Linked DNA regions of Homo sapiens: region 1 is linked to region 2. The links come from fine-mapping of genetic effects on gene expression. Tissue or cell type: prefrontal cortex. Region 2 holds a variant in brackets; the other region holds the start of a gene. All regions are shown on one strand. Distances are from middle to middle.

What was found. PIP is the estimated chance that this variant, and not a neighbour inherited with it, causes the effect.
Region 1: MTMR3 starts here. The variant in region 2 is fine-mapped to the expression of MTMR3 in prefrontal cortex (GTEx, PIP above 0.99).

Annotation. Positions count from the first base shown.
Region 1 is chr22:29,879,107-29,887,200 of GRCh38, reverse strand. MTMR3 (myotubularin related protein 3) reads right to left here and starts at 4,027. Exons shown (of 20, transcript NM_021090.4): 1 at 3,842-4,027. RefSeq lists silencers at 3,485-3,984, 4,045-4,214, 7,216-7,315 and an enhancer at 3,927-4,221.
Region 2 is chr22:30,265,126-30,273,221 of GRCh38, reverse strand. OSM (oncostatin M) reads left to right here and starts at 6,371. Exons shown (of 3, transcript NM_020530.6): 1 at 6,371-6,456; 2 at 8,078-8,096. The coding sequence starts at 6,423. RefSeq lists enhancers at 6,968-7,067, 7,128-7,207. The variant C/T (reference allele first, on the strand shown) is at 3,958.

The DNA of each region.
Region 1 (8,094 bases), 390 kb after region 2:
ACTTTCATGCTACAATTTTCATTTTTAATATCTGATACAAATATGAACTTAAAAGGTATATTGTTTCTAGATACAAAAGCAAAGATGAAAGCATATCAGTATTGATATCACAAAATTAAGATTAAAAATAGCAATGACATGTTAATAATTTGGTAGCCTCTAAAGTTACTGGGAGTTCTAGTTCAATCCAGTATGAATCTGATATCATCTTATAACTTAAATCAATGTTACACTGATTATAAATTTATCTATATATTCATCATAGAAAATTACAGAATTAGGTGGTAAGAAACAGCTAGCTATATAAATTGCACAAACTCCCCCCAAACCATTCTCAAGTCTCATGACTTCACACTAAATTATGAAGTTCCCAATGTAAAACCCAATTTGATTTCAACACTAAGCCAATTACAACAGCATAAGCATGTTCTTTCTACATAACACTTGCAACATACATTCAACATCGGAAGCACTTTTGGACAATGTCTAAAATCCATAAGCTAAAAGCAGAACCCAACACAGAATCTTGTTTCTTTTAAATAATAAAAGTTCATCTACCTATATGAGATGAATACCAAATAACATAATTAGAAATGATTAAAAATTTGCAGAATCAGGCTAGAGAAACTACTTGAGGTCAAAGACTATAGGCCCTTAATTGTATATATGAGAAAACTGACGCCCAGAGAAGTTAAGTGACATTCCCAACAGCAATAAATGACACAGATGGAATCAGAATATATGTCTGTCAATCCAGAACTTCCCACTATTCTATACTACCTTTGCACTTACTGTGCTCTTAAAAAAGTAACTAACATCTGAAACACTTAAGATTCATTAAGACTCAAAAACTAGGGGACTCGATAATGTTCATGACAGTCTTTAGAAAACAATTTCTTAAAGGAATCTCAAAAATTCCAAACAATAAGCACTGAAAGCTGGCTCTTCATTTTCATTTTCTTTCCTACCCAGAGCCCTATTTGATCAAAAATTGGCTCTTTAATCCATTGCAAAATATCAGGTAGCTTTTAATAACTAACACTGCTATAAACCACCATAACTGTTCTTTTTCCCATATCAATAGTATTCACTTAATTAAAAAATATCTGAGGGCACAGAATATGCGGATAACTGCGCTGGATACTGGGGACACCAGGGAACAAAACAGACAAGGCCTCTGGCTCTTCTAATGGACAGCTGGGTGCAACTCTAAAAATACTACTCTATGATTTGACAGGATATTTACCAAAGCCCTTCACTACTCTACACAATTGTAACAACATTTTCTTCCACCTCTTCCAAACTTGTAAGAACCTTCACCACACCCCCCTCTAAAACACGAATACTTCCTTTGGTAACAGCATTCCACTTTACTGAAGAAGGTGTGAACGTGTTAACTAGAACTACAGCAGATTTTTAAACTGACTTTACCACTCCTCATGGCCTGCGGCAAATCTCAAGAACTTTTCACAATACATAGTAACCCTTCCTGGTTCACAACCCGGGTCTCAAATGATTGCTAACACACCCATCCTACCCTCCACTAGAAATCTGAGTCAGATGGTTTAGGAGCAACCATAATGGTGGGAAGCATCTTCAGTGGACCCCTTTATGAGCCAGAAGCCGACTTACTCCCTCTCCTTCTCTGTTTATTTCCTCTGGATCCTTCAATATATCTCTGGATACAGTATATCTCCAATTAATCAGCATCTAATTTTATCAAGTGTGTTCCTAATAACTTGTTTGCAAATTAACTTTTGGCAACAAATCTGTTTCCCCTACATAAATCCATTATATTTTAAGAGATGCTCAATTTGCATCTCTTTAAGTTTCTCATGCTTCCCCTTCTCCACCTCTTAAATTCTTAAAGATCTATAAACAAAAGCACCCTGAGAAGTCATAATTAATGGGACTTCTTTGGAATACCCAACCTAAAGCAAAAGTTCACATGCCTTGCTGACCAGAATCATTCACGGAGCTTTGTAAGGACAGATCCCCAGGCTCTATCCTCAGAGATTTTAATTCACCAGGTCCTGCATGAGTTCGAGGAATTTAGGTAGTCCATAATATTTCTAATGACCAGCCTTAAACTAGACAACCACTGAAGAACCTGGCCTATGAGCTGAGAAACTCAGGGTTTTTTATGGCTGGTCATTAACGACAAGCGGGGCTGTACCACTGTGCTGGTCACTTGAAGTTCTCTGAGTCACCTGAAAATGAGGGAGTAATTGGAGCCAAAAGAGGTATTCATAGGCAGCCAATCTAAAATTCTAGAATCCTCCAAATTTAATTTAATATCACATACTATACTGGGTTTACTCAAAACAGTGTCATTCTGGCTGGCGGCAGTGGCTCACGCCTATAATCCCAACACTTTCGAAGGCCAACGCAAGCGGATCACTTGAGGTCAAGAGTTCCAGGCCAGCCTGGCCAACATGGTGAAATCCCCGTCTCTACTAAAAATACAAAAATTAGCCAGCCGTGGTGGCGCACACTTGTAATCCCAGCTACTTGGGAGGCTGAGGTGGGAGGATTGCTAGAACCTGGCAGGCGGAGGTTGCAGTGAGCAGAGATCGCACTACTGCACTCCGGCCTGGGCGGGAGAGAGAGATTCTGTCTTAAAAAAAAAAAAAAAAAAAAAAAAAAAAAGTGTCATTCTGTAAGCTCTTCTAGCCTACCCAAGTCATAGGCCCTATAAAGGGAAGACTTTCTGCATGCCATCAATGTCTCCTGTCCTACTGAACAGCCCTGAATCTGAAAGGGGAAGGTCCCCACCACCTCTCCATGGACAAATCACAAACATTTCACATTGAAAAAAATAATAATAATCTCCTGTAATTCAACCCAGGCCTCTTATGGCATTACCATTCACATATGAGAAAGTTGAACCTTAACTAGAAAAGTATATGGTTTTGGGGTTTTGTTTTGTTTTGTTTTGTTTGTTTGGGTTGTGGAAAAATAGATGTCAGAATCAAGATACTACAACAGTAAGAATTTAGGCCTGGGTCTGGAAAGGACATTTGAACATCAATATGTAATAGCAGTCCATGTCCAAAACTCACAAGTGAGATTATCAAATTCCAGGGGAGTCTATTAATGTGGCCAAAAAATCTACCCCATAATTTTGACATAAGTTTTCCAGTCCAAAATACAACCTACAGTATCATCTTATGGGTCCGGAAATGCCATACATCAAGCAAAATTACTACCGGAGAAATAACACTGTAATCATTTGCGGAGCAGTCTGACCAGGGTTCCCTCAGTTACGCCAACCGCCCCCAATCATCCTACCCACCTAAGTACTACCAGGTCAGGGGGATGCCCTGCTGCACGATCGGGCGGTCACTCCTCCTTTCCACAAGGCCCAGGCCCGCACCGTTCGCCCCGGGGCTCCCATGGCCCCTGACCTCCAGTATCCGGCAACGATGGACCGCCACAGACCCGGCAGGGGGCGAAGGGCGCACACCCACCTCCCGGGAGTTCGTGGGAATAACTCCGGGCGCTCCGAGGGTACGTCCCACACCCAGAGCCGCACGGGCCCATCCCCGCCAGGTCTGGGAAGGCAGCCCGAGCCCGGGACCCCGCCTCCCCCGCATCTAGGGTCCGGGCCGAGCTCGGCCGCCGAGCTCCCATTCCCACTCCCACACCCAGCGCCTCCCCCTGGCGGCGACAGCCGCCGGGGACGCCCCTCCCCGGGCCCCGCACGCAGTCCCCAGCCCTCCCAGGGCGCTGCCTCCTCAGAGGGTGACAGCCGCCTGGCCAGGGCCGGGGCCGAGGCCGGCCCCTCCTCCAGCTCTTCCTCACCCGCCGAGGAGACGGAGGACGGGGATGGGGTTCTTACCGGGCAGCAGGACATGGCGAGGCCCTCCACGGCACAGTCTCCCCCTCCGCCACCCCACCAGGCTCCCTGCCAGGGCCGGCGCTGGGCAGCGCCTGAGCCGCTGGGACGTCTCGTCCGGCTGCTACTCCGCCGCCGCCGCCGCCTTCTCACAACCACAACAACATGGCGGCAGCGGCCACACAGAGCGCGCTCCCGACGCCGAGCCGGGCGACGAGCGAGGACGCGCGCGCACGCTCGGGCGCTGAGCCCGGTGTCCGGGAAAGGGGGCGGGTCTCCGCCGGTTGGACGGGGGCGGGGCCTGGACAGGTGGTCACGCCCCAGGAGATGGGCGGGGCTGCAGCTGGGGAGAGGCTCGCGAAAAAGCCCAGCGGAGCAAGAATGGCTAGACAGATGGGAAATGGGTGGAGGAAAAGAGATGACAAAAAAAAATCTGGAAGAAAACCAAAGGTGGTCCTACAGATTTTTAGGAGGCGTCTTTTCCAAGCTCTGTAACCCTGGGCAAGACATGGCTCACTCTACTTACCAGAAAAATAGAACAATAGTGGTATCTTCCACCTGCAATTGTGGTCAGGATAAAACCAGTTTAATATAATGCAAGTAAATATAGTGTTTTAGAAGTTGTATTCAGAATACAATTTCTTTTCTTTTCTTTTCTTTTTTTTTTTTTTTTTTTTTTTTTTGAGACAGAGTCTGGCTCTGTCGCCCAGGCTGGAGTGCAGTGGCATCTCGGCTCACTGCAACCTCTGCCTCCCGGGCTCAAGCGATCCTCACACCTCAGCCTCCTGAGTAGCTGAGACTACAGACTCACAACATCATGCCCGGCTAAATTTTGTATTTTTTGTAGAGATGAGGTTTCTGCCATTTTGTCCAGGCTGATCTCAAACTCCTGGGCTGAAGCAATCCACCCACCTCGGCCTCCCAAAGCGCTGGGATTACAGGCATGAACCACCGCATCCGGTCCAGAATACAATTTCAAACTGATTCAACTTCAGCTCCTAATCAAAAGCTCAGCGGGAAGAAGTGAGTTTTCAAACAAAGTAAAAAACAACTCCCCCAAAAAATTGTAACCTACCCACACTAGCCTGCAGAATTCCACAAACCAGGATTGCATTACCGTAGGCCCTAACAGATTCACCTCCTCTGAGTTGCCTTTTAACATTCTACCCTTGACTTTTCTGGAAACTGGGAGAACTAGTCAAATGAAATCTATTCCTGCGTCTGTTGTAAAGTTTTTCCACAGCACTTTCTGAAATTTATTTTCAATGTTTACTGTCATTTTACTCCACTAAAATGTAAAAGCTACTTGAAGATAAGGATCTTGTCTTGTTCGTCACTGTTTCCCCAGCACCTAGAACTGTGCAGGTTAAGTAGTAGGCAGTCGAATTTCTTGATTAACTAACAGCTGGCTGGGCGCGGGGGCTCACGCCTGTAATCCCAGCACTTTGGGAGGCCAAGGTGAGTGGATCACCTGAACTCAGGTGTTCGATACCAGCCTGGCCAACTTGGTGAAACCCCGGATCTACTAAAAATACAAAAGTTAGCTGGGCATGGTGGCGGGCGCCTGTAATCCCAGCTACTTGGGAGGCTGAGGCAGGAGAATAACTTGAACCCGGGAGGCGGAGGTTGCAGTGAGCTGAGACTGCGCCACCGCACTCCAGCCTGGGCGACAGAGCAAGACTCCGTCTCAAAAAAACGAAACTAAACTAACAGCTAACATTTATTCATACAACTCATCTAATTGAATCTTCACAACTTTAATAGGTAGATGCCATTATCTCCATATTACAGATGAAGAAAGTGAAGCACAGAATAAATTGCGTGTATTAAAACAAAATTCAAACCCAGCAGACAAAAAAAAAAAAAAAATACTGTGCTGTCTTACCCACCAGGCTGTACTGCCCAGTGCATGGACACAGTAGCCTGAAATAAAATCTCAAGTAAGAAATTACTTTAGGCCGGGCGCAGTGGCTCATGCCTGAAATCCCAGCACTTTAGGAGGCCGAGGCAGGTGGATTGCTTGAGCTCAGGAGTTCGAGACCAGCCTAGGCAACATGGCGAAATCCCATCTCTACAAAAAATACCAAAAAACTGGCCAGGCGTGGTGGTGCACGCCTGTAGTCCCAGCTATTTGAGAGGCTGAGGTGGGAGAATGGCTTGAGCCTGGGAGGCAGAGGTTGCAGTGAGCCCTGATTGTGCCACTGCACTCCAATCTGGGTGTCAGAGAGAGAAAAAAGAAAGAACGAAATAAATTACTTTAGAGTTAAAAGCTTGGAAAGCCCTTGCTTTACTACCAGAAAAACCGGTGTGCTTCCTGCTTTTTGATAACTGTTACGCATCTGATTGTGTCTCTCTTTTCACTCTGGCTTCCAGAAAGCCCAGGGCTAAATGTGAAGCTCAGCAATGACCTCTTCTTGGCCCTTGAGGGTCCACTCCTGCCTCAACTTTGCACCTGTATTTATATGTGGCTGCCCTGATTTTCCCTTTCTGTTCTATGACTGACTATAGGCTTAATGGAATGGGAGAAGAAACAGTAAATACTAAAATTGATGAATGATTTAAAGTTTTTTTATTTTATTTTATTTTATTTTATTTTTGAGACAGAGTTTCACTCTTGTTGCCCAGGCTGGAGGGTAATGGCGGGAACTTGGCTCACTGCAACCTCTGCCTCCCGGGTTCAACCGACTCTCCTGCCTCAGCCTCCCGAGTAGCTGGGATTACAGGCATACGCCACCACACCCGGCTAATTTTTTGTATTTTTAGTAGGGACGGGGTTTCTCCATGTTGGTCAGGCTGGTCTCGAACTCCCGACCTCAGGTGATCCACCAGTCTCGGCCTCCCAAAGTGCTGGGATTACAGGCATGAGCCACCGTGCCCGGCCTCTTTTTATTTTTATATTTTATTTTATTTTCAGACAAGGTCTCACTCTGTTGTCCAGGCTGGAGTGCAGTGGCTGGATCTCTGCTCACTGCAACCTCTACCTCCCAGGGCTCGAGCCATCCTCCCACCTCAGCCTCTTGAGAAGCTGGGACTACAGGCGTGCTCCACCACACCTGGCTAACTTTTGTATTTCTCATAGAGACGGGGGGTGGGGGTGGTGTCTCACCGTGTTCCCCAGGCTGGTCTCAAACCCCTGAGTTCAAACGATCCATCTGCCTCCGCCTCCCAAAGTGCTGGGATTACAGGGGTAAGCCACAACGCCCAGCCTTAAACTTTAAAAATTAAGAAAAAAAAAAAAAGGACTTTCCAACCTGTTTTTCCCATTGTCTGATAAACCAAGGTTCTCATCAGCCATTAAGCCCCCCCGCAGGGAAATTCCCTTAACCAGTCATCTGCTCAGGGAAAGGCCATAGGACGAACTGCCACAGGTTGGTGGCCTCTGATTGGACTGAAGCTAGCACCTGACTCCAGGACAGCCCACCCATAGGCCACCTAGCTTCCAATGAGAAGGCACAGGGCAAAGAGTTCTGCCAATAGGCAGTCAGCATACACTCAACCAATCCCACAGCTCCCCAATTCACCATGGGAGAGCGAAGGAGATGGCTTGTAATTTTGACCTCTTTTTAGACGGAATGTCATCGTGTTTGCCTTTTAATCTGGGCTAAATAATCTTCAATTGAATCTTCAACCAGTATTTGGGACATAGGAGGAATTTCTCTATGCCCATGAAATCACACTATTTGCACCTTCTCATTTTCATAATAGCTAACATGAATTGGAGTGAGTGGCTATTCACCGACCAGATATCAGCACACTACAGCTTCCAACTCCCCGGCTCCAGCAACCCTCCTGCCTCGGCTTCCCTACTGGGTCTAGAGGTATTCACCACTGCAACTGGCTGGATTGAACCTTTCAATTGTGGCGGGCGCTATACGAGCACTTTACATGTATATCTAATGTAATCTTAGGCCGGGCACGGTGGCTCACACCTGTAATCCCAGCACTTGGGGAGGCCGAGGCGGGCAGATCACCTGAGGTCAGGAGTTCGAGACCAGCCTGGCCAACATGGTGAAACCCCATCTCTACTAAAAATACAAAAATTAGCCAGGCATGGTGGCAGGTGCCTGTAATCCCAGCTACTCCGGAGGAAAATTGCTTACTCAGGAAAATTGCTTGAACCCGGGAGGCAGAGGTTGCAGTAAGCCAAGATGGTGCCTCTGCACTCCAGCCTGGGTGACAGAGCGAGACTCTGTCTCAGAAATAAATAAAATAAAATAAAATTTAAAGGTAATGTAATCTTTACAACAACACTATAG
Region 2 (8,096 bases):
TCATTTTAAAGTGTATGATTTGGGGGTTTTGGGTATATTCACATGGTTGTGCAACCATCGCCACTATGTAATTCCAGAATATCTTCATCACCTCCAAAGAAACCTCGTGCCCATTAGCAGTCTCTCCCCAGCCCTGGATGCCCCAGCCCCCAGCAGCCACTGGTGTATTCTCTGTGTCTCTCCATGTGCCTATTCCCGACATTTCCCATAGCAGAATCATACAACATGTGGCCTTTTGTGTCTGGCTTCTTTCATGCAGCATCATGGTTTCAAGGTTCATGCATGTTGTGGCACATGGCAATGCTTCCTTCCGTTTTGTGACTTAATATTCCTTTGTATGGATAGAACACATTTTGTTTATCCATTTTCTATTGACAGACATTTGGGTTGCTTCCACTTTTTGGCTATGCCGAATAATTGCTCCTATGAACATTTGCAAGTTTTTGTGTGGATGTACGTTTCCTTCCTTCCTCCCTCTCTCCCACTCTCTCTTTCTCTCTTTCTTATTTTTTTTGGCGTTTCGCTCTTGTTGCCAGGCTAGAGAGCAAAGGCGCGATCTCAGCTCACTGCAGCTTCCACCTCCCAGATTCAAGTGATTCTCCTGCCTCAGTCTCCTGAGTAGCTAGGATTACAGGCGTGCGCCACCATGCCCAGCTAATTTTTGTATCTTTAGTAGAGATGGAGTTTCACCATGTTGGCCAGGCTGGTCTTGAACTCCCGACCTCAGGTGATCCACCTGCCTTGGCTTCCCAAAGTGCTGGGATTAAAGGTGTGAACCACCGTGCTCAGCCTCTTTTTTTTTTTTGTCCAGAGACAGAGTCTCACTCTGTCACTCAGGCTGGAGTGCAGTGGTATGAATATGGCTCACTGCAGCCTTGACCTCGCAGGCTCAAGTGATCTTTCGGTCTCAGCTTCCTGAGTAGCTGGGACCACACAGGTGCAAGCCACCATGCTCAGCTAATTTTTAAATGTTTTGTAGAGATGGGGTCTCACTTTTTTGGCCAGGCTGGTCTTGAACTCCTGGGCTCAAGTGATCCTCCCATCTTGGCCTCCCAAAGTGCTGGGATTACAGGTCTGACCACTGCACCTGGCCTATGTTTTCAATTCTCTTGGGTGTATATCTAGGAGTGGAATTGTTGGTTATATGATATCTCTATTTATTTTTTTTTTTTTTGAGACAGTGTCTCACTCTGTCACCCAGACTGGAGGGTAGTGGCACAATCTTGGCTCACTGCAACCTCCGCCTCCCAGGTTCAAGCAATTCTCCTGCCTCAGTCTCCCGAGTAGCTGGGACTACCGGCGAGTGCTACCATGCCTGCGTAATTTTTTGTACTTTTAGTAGAGTTGGAGTTTCACTACGTTGGCCAGGCTGGTCTCAAACTCCTGGCCTCAAGTGATCTGCCGGCCTCAGCCTCCCAAAGTGCTGGGATTACAGGCGTGAGCCACTGCCTCTGGCCTCTGTGTTTAACCATTTGCGGAACTGCCAAACTGTTTTCCAATTTGGTGGCACCATTCATTGTAGATTCCCACCAGCAATGCCCCAGGGTTCTCATCTCTCCATCTCCTCGTTAGCACTTGTAATTGTCTACCTTTGATTATAGCCACCCTAGTGAATGTGGAATGGCTTCTCATGGTGGTTTTGATTTGCATTTCCCTGGTGTTTAGCATCTTTTCACGTGCTTCTTGGCCATTTGTATATCTTCTTTTTTTTGGAGAAATGTCTATTAAAATCCTTTGCCCATTTTTAAATTGGATTGCTTGTCTTTTTCATTGTTGTTCAGTTGTCATTGCAGTTTAAAAAGAGGAAACTGAGGCTCAGAAGGGGGACATGACTGGTCCAGGGACACTGGGCTCACAGGCAGATTGAGATGGAACTTGGGTTGGTCTCCACCTCCCACCCAGCAGATTGGGGGCCACCTTCTCTCCCCCCACCAGAGCACCTCTCCCCAGCCTCCAGTTTCGACCTGGCCCTGCCAGGCCATCTCAGGTCCTATCCTTGCATTTAAAGGCGTAGGGCCCCACAGCAGAGGGTAAGCCGGAAAGCGAGGAAGCAGCAGTTCTGAGGAACCAAGCTGGTCCTCTCTTCCTCTCCAAATCACGCGGGCCTGGCTGACGTGGCCCGGGAAGAGGGGACAGCCCGGGTCCTGTGGTCGGGGAGCCTATTTATACTGGCTGGGCCATGTTGCAAGCTTTTCCTGCTGGTGAGAGGGACGTCACTGATTGCTGACCTCACCAGAAACGCTGACGCATCTTTCCTCACGCTTGGCTGGGATGGTCAGCGGCCAGGCCTCCTCACCTCCGAGCCACTCCCTGTCCTCCTGTGTATCACTTCACTCTGGATGCTCCGACAGTGGCCCCAGCCCCTGTGCCCTCCAGCTATGCCTTCCTCTTGCAGGCTGCATGGACTGAATGGTGTCTTCCCTGAACTCATGTGTTGAAGTCCTAACCATCGTGTGTCAGAACGTGACTGTATTTGGAAGTTGAGCCTTTAAAGAAGTAATTAAGGGCCGGGTGCGGTAGCTCACGCCTGTAATCCCAGCACTTTGGGAGGCCATGGCAGGCAGATCACTTGAGGCCAGGAGTTCGAGACCAGCCTGGCCTACATGGTGAAACCCCGTCTCTACTAAAAAAATACAAAAATTAGCCAGGCATGGTGGTGGGCACTTGTAGTCCCAGCTACTCGGGAGGCTGAGGCAGAGAATTGCTTGAACCTGGGAGGCAGAGGTTGCAGTGAGCCAAGCTGGCGCCACTGCACTCCAGCGTGGGTGACAGAGTGAGATTCCATCTCAAAAAAAAAAAAAAAAGAAAAGAAAAAAAAAAAGAAGTAATTAAGGTAAAATTGGCCAGGTGTGGTAGCACATACCTGTAATCCCAGCTACTCTGGAGGCTGAGGCAGGAGGCTCGCTTAAGGCCGGGAGTTCAAGGCTGCAGTGAGCTATGAAAGCACCACTGTACACTTAAGCCTGGGCAACACAGCAAGACTTTGTCTCGAAAAAGAAAAAAAAAAGGAATAATTAAGGTAAAATGTGAGTGGGCCCTAATCCAATGTGAATGGTGTCCTCATAAGAAGAGATAAGGCCAAGCGCGGTGGCTCGCTCCTGTAATCCCAGCACTTTGGGAGGCTGAGGCAGGTGGATCACCTGAGGTTAGGAGTTCGAGATCAGCCTGGACAACATGGCGAAACCCTGTCTCTACTAAAAATACAAAAATTAGCCTGGCGTGGTGGCACACGCCTGTAATCCCAGCTACTCAGGAGGCTAAGGCAGGAGAAGCGCTTGAACCCAGGTGGCAGAGGTTGTAGTGAGCTGAGATCGTGCCACTGCACTCCAGCCTGGGTGACGGAGCTAGACTCTGTCTCAAAAAAAAAAAAAAATCGATTAGGCCACGGACAAGCAGAAGGAACATGATGTGGAGATACGGGGAGAGACAGTCATCTACAAGTCAAGGAGAGAGGCCTTGGGAACCAGCCCTTGATTTCAGACTTCAGCCTCTAGAACTGTGAGAAAATAAATCTCTGTTACGTAAGCCCCCCAGTCTGTGGTACTTTGTTATGGGAGTCCTAGCAATGTAATCTACCTGCTCTCCTTACCTTCAGTGACTCTGAGCCCTGGGCCCTGTGCCTGACACCCTCATTAACTATGTGCAAAGAGTATGGTCTTTGGGCCTCGTTTGAATGCCTTCTTTTCTTGGTGGGTTTTTTGTTTTTTGTTTTTTTTAAACAGGGCCTTGCTCTGTCACCCAGGCTGGAGTCCTGTGGCATGATAATGGCTCACTGCAGCCTCAACCTTCGGGGCTCGAGCGATCCTCCTGCCTCAACCTCCCTAGTAGCTGGGACTTCAGGTATGCACTACGATGTCTGGATAATTTATTTTTACATTTTCTGTAAAGACACAGTCTCGAAGTCCTGGGCTCAAATGACCCTCCTGCCTCGGCCTCCCAAAGTGCTGGGATTACAGG[C/T]GTGAGCCACCATGCCTGGCCAAATGCCCCTCTCCTCTTAACTATTCATAGGTGACCTCAGACAAAGCAACCTCCTCTCTCTGCCATGAGGAGACAGCACGGCCTCCCTGGACCACAGGATAGATAGAATAAGATAAAGGCATGTGGCTGTTTCTCACCAAGCGTGGTGGTCGGTCAGCCACAGCTGAAAATGGCCTAGACCCCTCTGCTCAGATCTGGCGCTCCTTCCTTGAGCCAGCCCCTAAACTTCCCAGAGCTTCGAGCTCCTCACTGAAGTGAGCTGAGGTGTCACTGCCCAGCGGCTTCTCTCCCCTGGCTGTTGCAGGATGAGATCGGTGGCTGGGTGCTGTGGCTCACGCTTGCAATCCCAGCACTTTGGGAGGCCAAGGCAGGAGGATCATTTGAACCCAGGAGTTTGTTATCAGCCTGGGCAACATAGTGACACCCCGTCTCTACAAAAAATAAAAAAATTAGCTGGGCATAGTGATGCATGCCTGTGGTCTCAGCTACTCAGGAGACTAAGGCGGGGAGCCTTGCTTCAGCTTAGGAGCTGGAGGCCACAGTGAGCTACCTACAATGGCGCCACTGCACTCCAGCCTGGGTGACAGAGCAAGATCCTGCATTTAAAAAAAGAGAAAAAAAGACGAGATCAGGGATGTGAAATGGAGAAGGATCCCCTCTTGGCATGGCCCCAGGAAACAGCATTGTGGGGGTGGGCACAGAGATGAGGACTTCAGCGGAAGCGACATTCTCAGGATGAGAATCCAGAACTGGCCCCTGGGGGTGGTGAGGGGGAGGTATGAGGCCTGGTGTGGTGAGTCCCAGCCTGGGTGCCGGGGAGTGGGTAGGGGCTGAAGAGCAGCCTCCTGGGCGTGGGGTCGCCTATTTTTGCCTACTACGTGATCCTCAGACCTGGGAGTGGCTGGTGCAGCATGGAGCCAAATAAAGGTTTGTCGAATGAATAAATGAGTGATGGGGAGAATGGGTGGCAACTGCCTTGGTGGCCACAGTGGGCATCGGGAGCAGGCATGGACAGGGGTGCATCCAACCTCCTCCTTTCTGGCTGCCCCAGCTCTCCTTGCTCAGGCGCCCCAGACCCCATGCTCCCTCCAGCTGGAGCAGCTCAGGCCTCCCTGGCAGCCTCCAGGAGTCCCACCCTGACTCCCCAGACTCCTGAGGGCCTCCTCCCACCCGGGCTTCTTAGGGTGCAGGCCAAGGACCCTCCTCTGGGCCTGGGAGATGTGCTGACCAGGCAGGGTCTATAGGCCTGGGCCAGCCTCTTGGCCTCCCTGTCTGCCTTCACCCAGGCCTCAGTTTACCCCACAGTAAAGTAGCAGTTTGACTAGGGAGGCGCTGTTCCCAGGGCCCTTTCGCAGAGGACCAACCTAAGATCGCTATCTTTCAGAGAAAGTGAAACCTGGTCCCCAACTGTCAAGGCGGCAACTCCCCCTCCCCGGCTTCCCCTCTGAGCTCACAGCTTCCCCATCTCCTCCTTCCCCCATCCCGCCCCCTCGACAGCTAATACTTGGAATCAGACCTTCATCTTTGCTTTTTCCTTCAGAGGTCTTTTCCTTTTATGTCCATGCTGGCAGCAACCCTGTGAGGTGGGCTGGGAAAGGCTTTTCTCCTCCTCATTTTATAGTTGTGGGTCTCTGAGGCCCAGAGAGGTTAAGTGACTTGCCTCAGGTCACACAGCACCTCAGCAGGCTTGAACCCTGGCCTCCTGTTTCTCTTGCTCCAAGTGTCCAGTTCTCCCCAGTGGAGCCTGCCTACAAAGACAAGGCCTGGCTTTGGGGAGTGGGCCTGGCAGAGGGTGCACGATGGGGGAAAGGAGACCGTCGGGAGCCGGGCTGGGGGATGCTGGTCCTGGGGCCTGAACCACAATCTCGGGGCTGCCAGCCTGCGTCTGGCTCTGTGCCCAGAGCCCGGTGGTTTCCGCTCACAGATGTCCCAACAGCCCCGGCGAGAGGGCAGGAAGGGCACTCAAGAAGGAAGATGTCTCGCTCCCCTCAGCCCCCAACCACCGTGTCCTGTGAGGCCAATGGCTCCTGGGCCAAGACTGGCCTGGGGCCTCCAGAGGCCCAGCTCGAAGTCCCTCCTGCCCATCCCTGGCCCAGTTCCCTGAAGATGGCATGGACCCTTTTCCTCCCCACTCACCCTAGGAAGGCTGAGGCTGCGGTTTTACATCATCCTTGGGCGTAGGGCTGACCTCGAAGAACGAATTCGAAGAAAACAGGAGGAGGAGCGGGCATACACCGCGCCCTGCGCCCATTGGCCGCCCGTGGAAATTTTGGTTTTTGGGGTCATGTTCCCAGAAGGCCTGCCCTCCCCCCTCCCCATCCCCACCCACCTCATGAGGTGTTGGCCAATCGCCCCAGCGGGCATAAAGTGGCTGCCAGCCTGCAGGGCTCCCAGCCGAGAGGTGTCACCCCCAGCGGGCGCGGGCCGGAGCACGGGCACCCAGCATGGGGGTACTGCTCACACAGAGGACGCTGCTCAGTAAGTACTTCCTTCCTCCCCGCCAGAACCCGCCTGCTGGGTCTGCCCACGGGTGCCGGTGGGGAGCAGAGGCACCCTCTGCCCTCCGGGAACTGGGGAGGCCAGGCGCCAGGCAGAAGGATGCTGAGAAGGGGAGAGAGCCAGGAGGTCAGGCAGAGAGAGTGGTCCACTGAGAACCTGGCATCTCCACAGGTAGAGAAGGGGCATCCCTGGAAGGCTTCCAGGGGGAGGTGATGTCAAGATGTAGAGGCAACTCTGGGAACCAGGGGGTGAGAGAATAGGATGGGCAAAGAGGCTGGGCAGGAGAGGGAGGCTCAGAAGCTGGGCAGGGAAGTGGTGTGAGGTGTGGAGGGGTTGTGGGGCCTCCAGCTTGCCCGGGATGAATAGAAAGTCAGCCAGGCCTGGGGGCCCCAGGGCCCACACAATCACACAGCATGCACAGCCACACCCACATGGCCACATGCGCACACAGCCATATGACGTCATCTACAGCCCTGGATCTCACCAGCCCAGGAACCCCCACATGCAGACCAGAGTCCCCATGGTGAACGGAACAGGTCTCCCTCACGCCGCACACAGACCCAGATGCACAGCCACACAGAAACCCCAGTCCCACGTGCGCTGCCACAGGCACAGGCCCCTGCCAGAGCCCGGCAGCAGATACCTGGGGAGGCGGCGAGGGTGCCGTGGGGTCGCTAAGCCTGGGTGCCTGGCCCCTTGGCCCTCCCCAACAGCCAGTCTTCCCCAAAGGGCCGGATGGTTCTTAGGACGGGAACGATGGTGTCACTGCCTTCCGGGCCATTGCGCCATAGGCCCCTTCCGACCACGTGGCTGCCGGTGCCCCGTTGGGGGTGGTGGTGAGCGGTAACTGTACCCGCCCCCAACACCTTCTGACAGGCTCACAGCATCCCTGGTGGGCCTGACAGAAGGAGCCACTTATGGAGAGAGGAGGGAGGCAAGAGAGGTCAGGGGAGAGCCCTGGCCTTGTGTGACCTGAGTAGGACCTTCTCCTGAGACTTGGTTTACCTGTCAGGAAAGTGGGGACATGGACTGGAAGGTCTTCCACATCTGTTCCAGGCTGCACCTCTGGTTGAAAAGGCAGCCTCTCCTGGTTCTAGACAGAGCTGAGGACACAAGCTGCTCCCGGGCTGCCTGCCCTGAAGCCCTCTCAGGCCCATCTACCTGGATGGCCAGAGCAGCTGACAAGGCAGGTCCTAGGGCAGTGGCCGGTCTTTAGCCCAGTGGTCTTGCAGGGAGCCAGTCCCACCTTGCAGAGAGTCAGCTCCCGAGGTTAGAACCGTGCTGTAGGCAGGACTGGGATCCGGCCAGGCACTGCAGCCTTTGCTCAAAGACCTACTTGGTAAATCGCAGCCACTGTCTCAGTCCCTCCCACTGCTTGCTGTGTCAGGCCCTGGGCAGTGACTTACTGGGGAGATGATGGTGGCCTTGGTGGGCACACCTGGGCACACACCGTGCCACACAGTGCCCAGCCCCCGCCCTCCACTACACAAAGTCTGGGATGAAGGAGGCACCTTTCAAGGCCCTCTTGAACCCCCTCCCCGAGGCTCCCATCTGTGGCTTTCCTCACCAAGTCAGGTGACACCCCTCTTCTCTGCCTTAGGTCTGGTCCTTGCACTCCT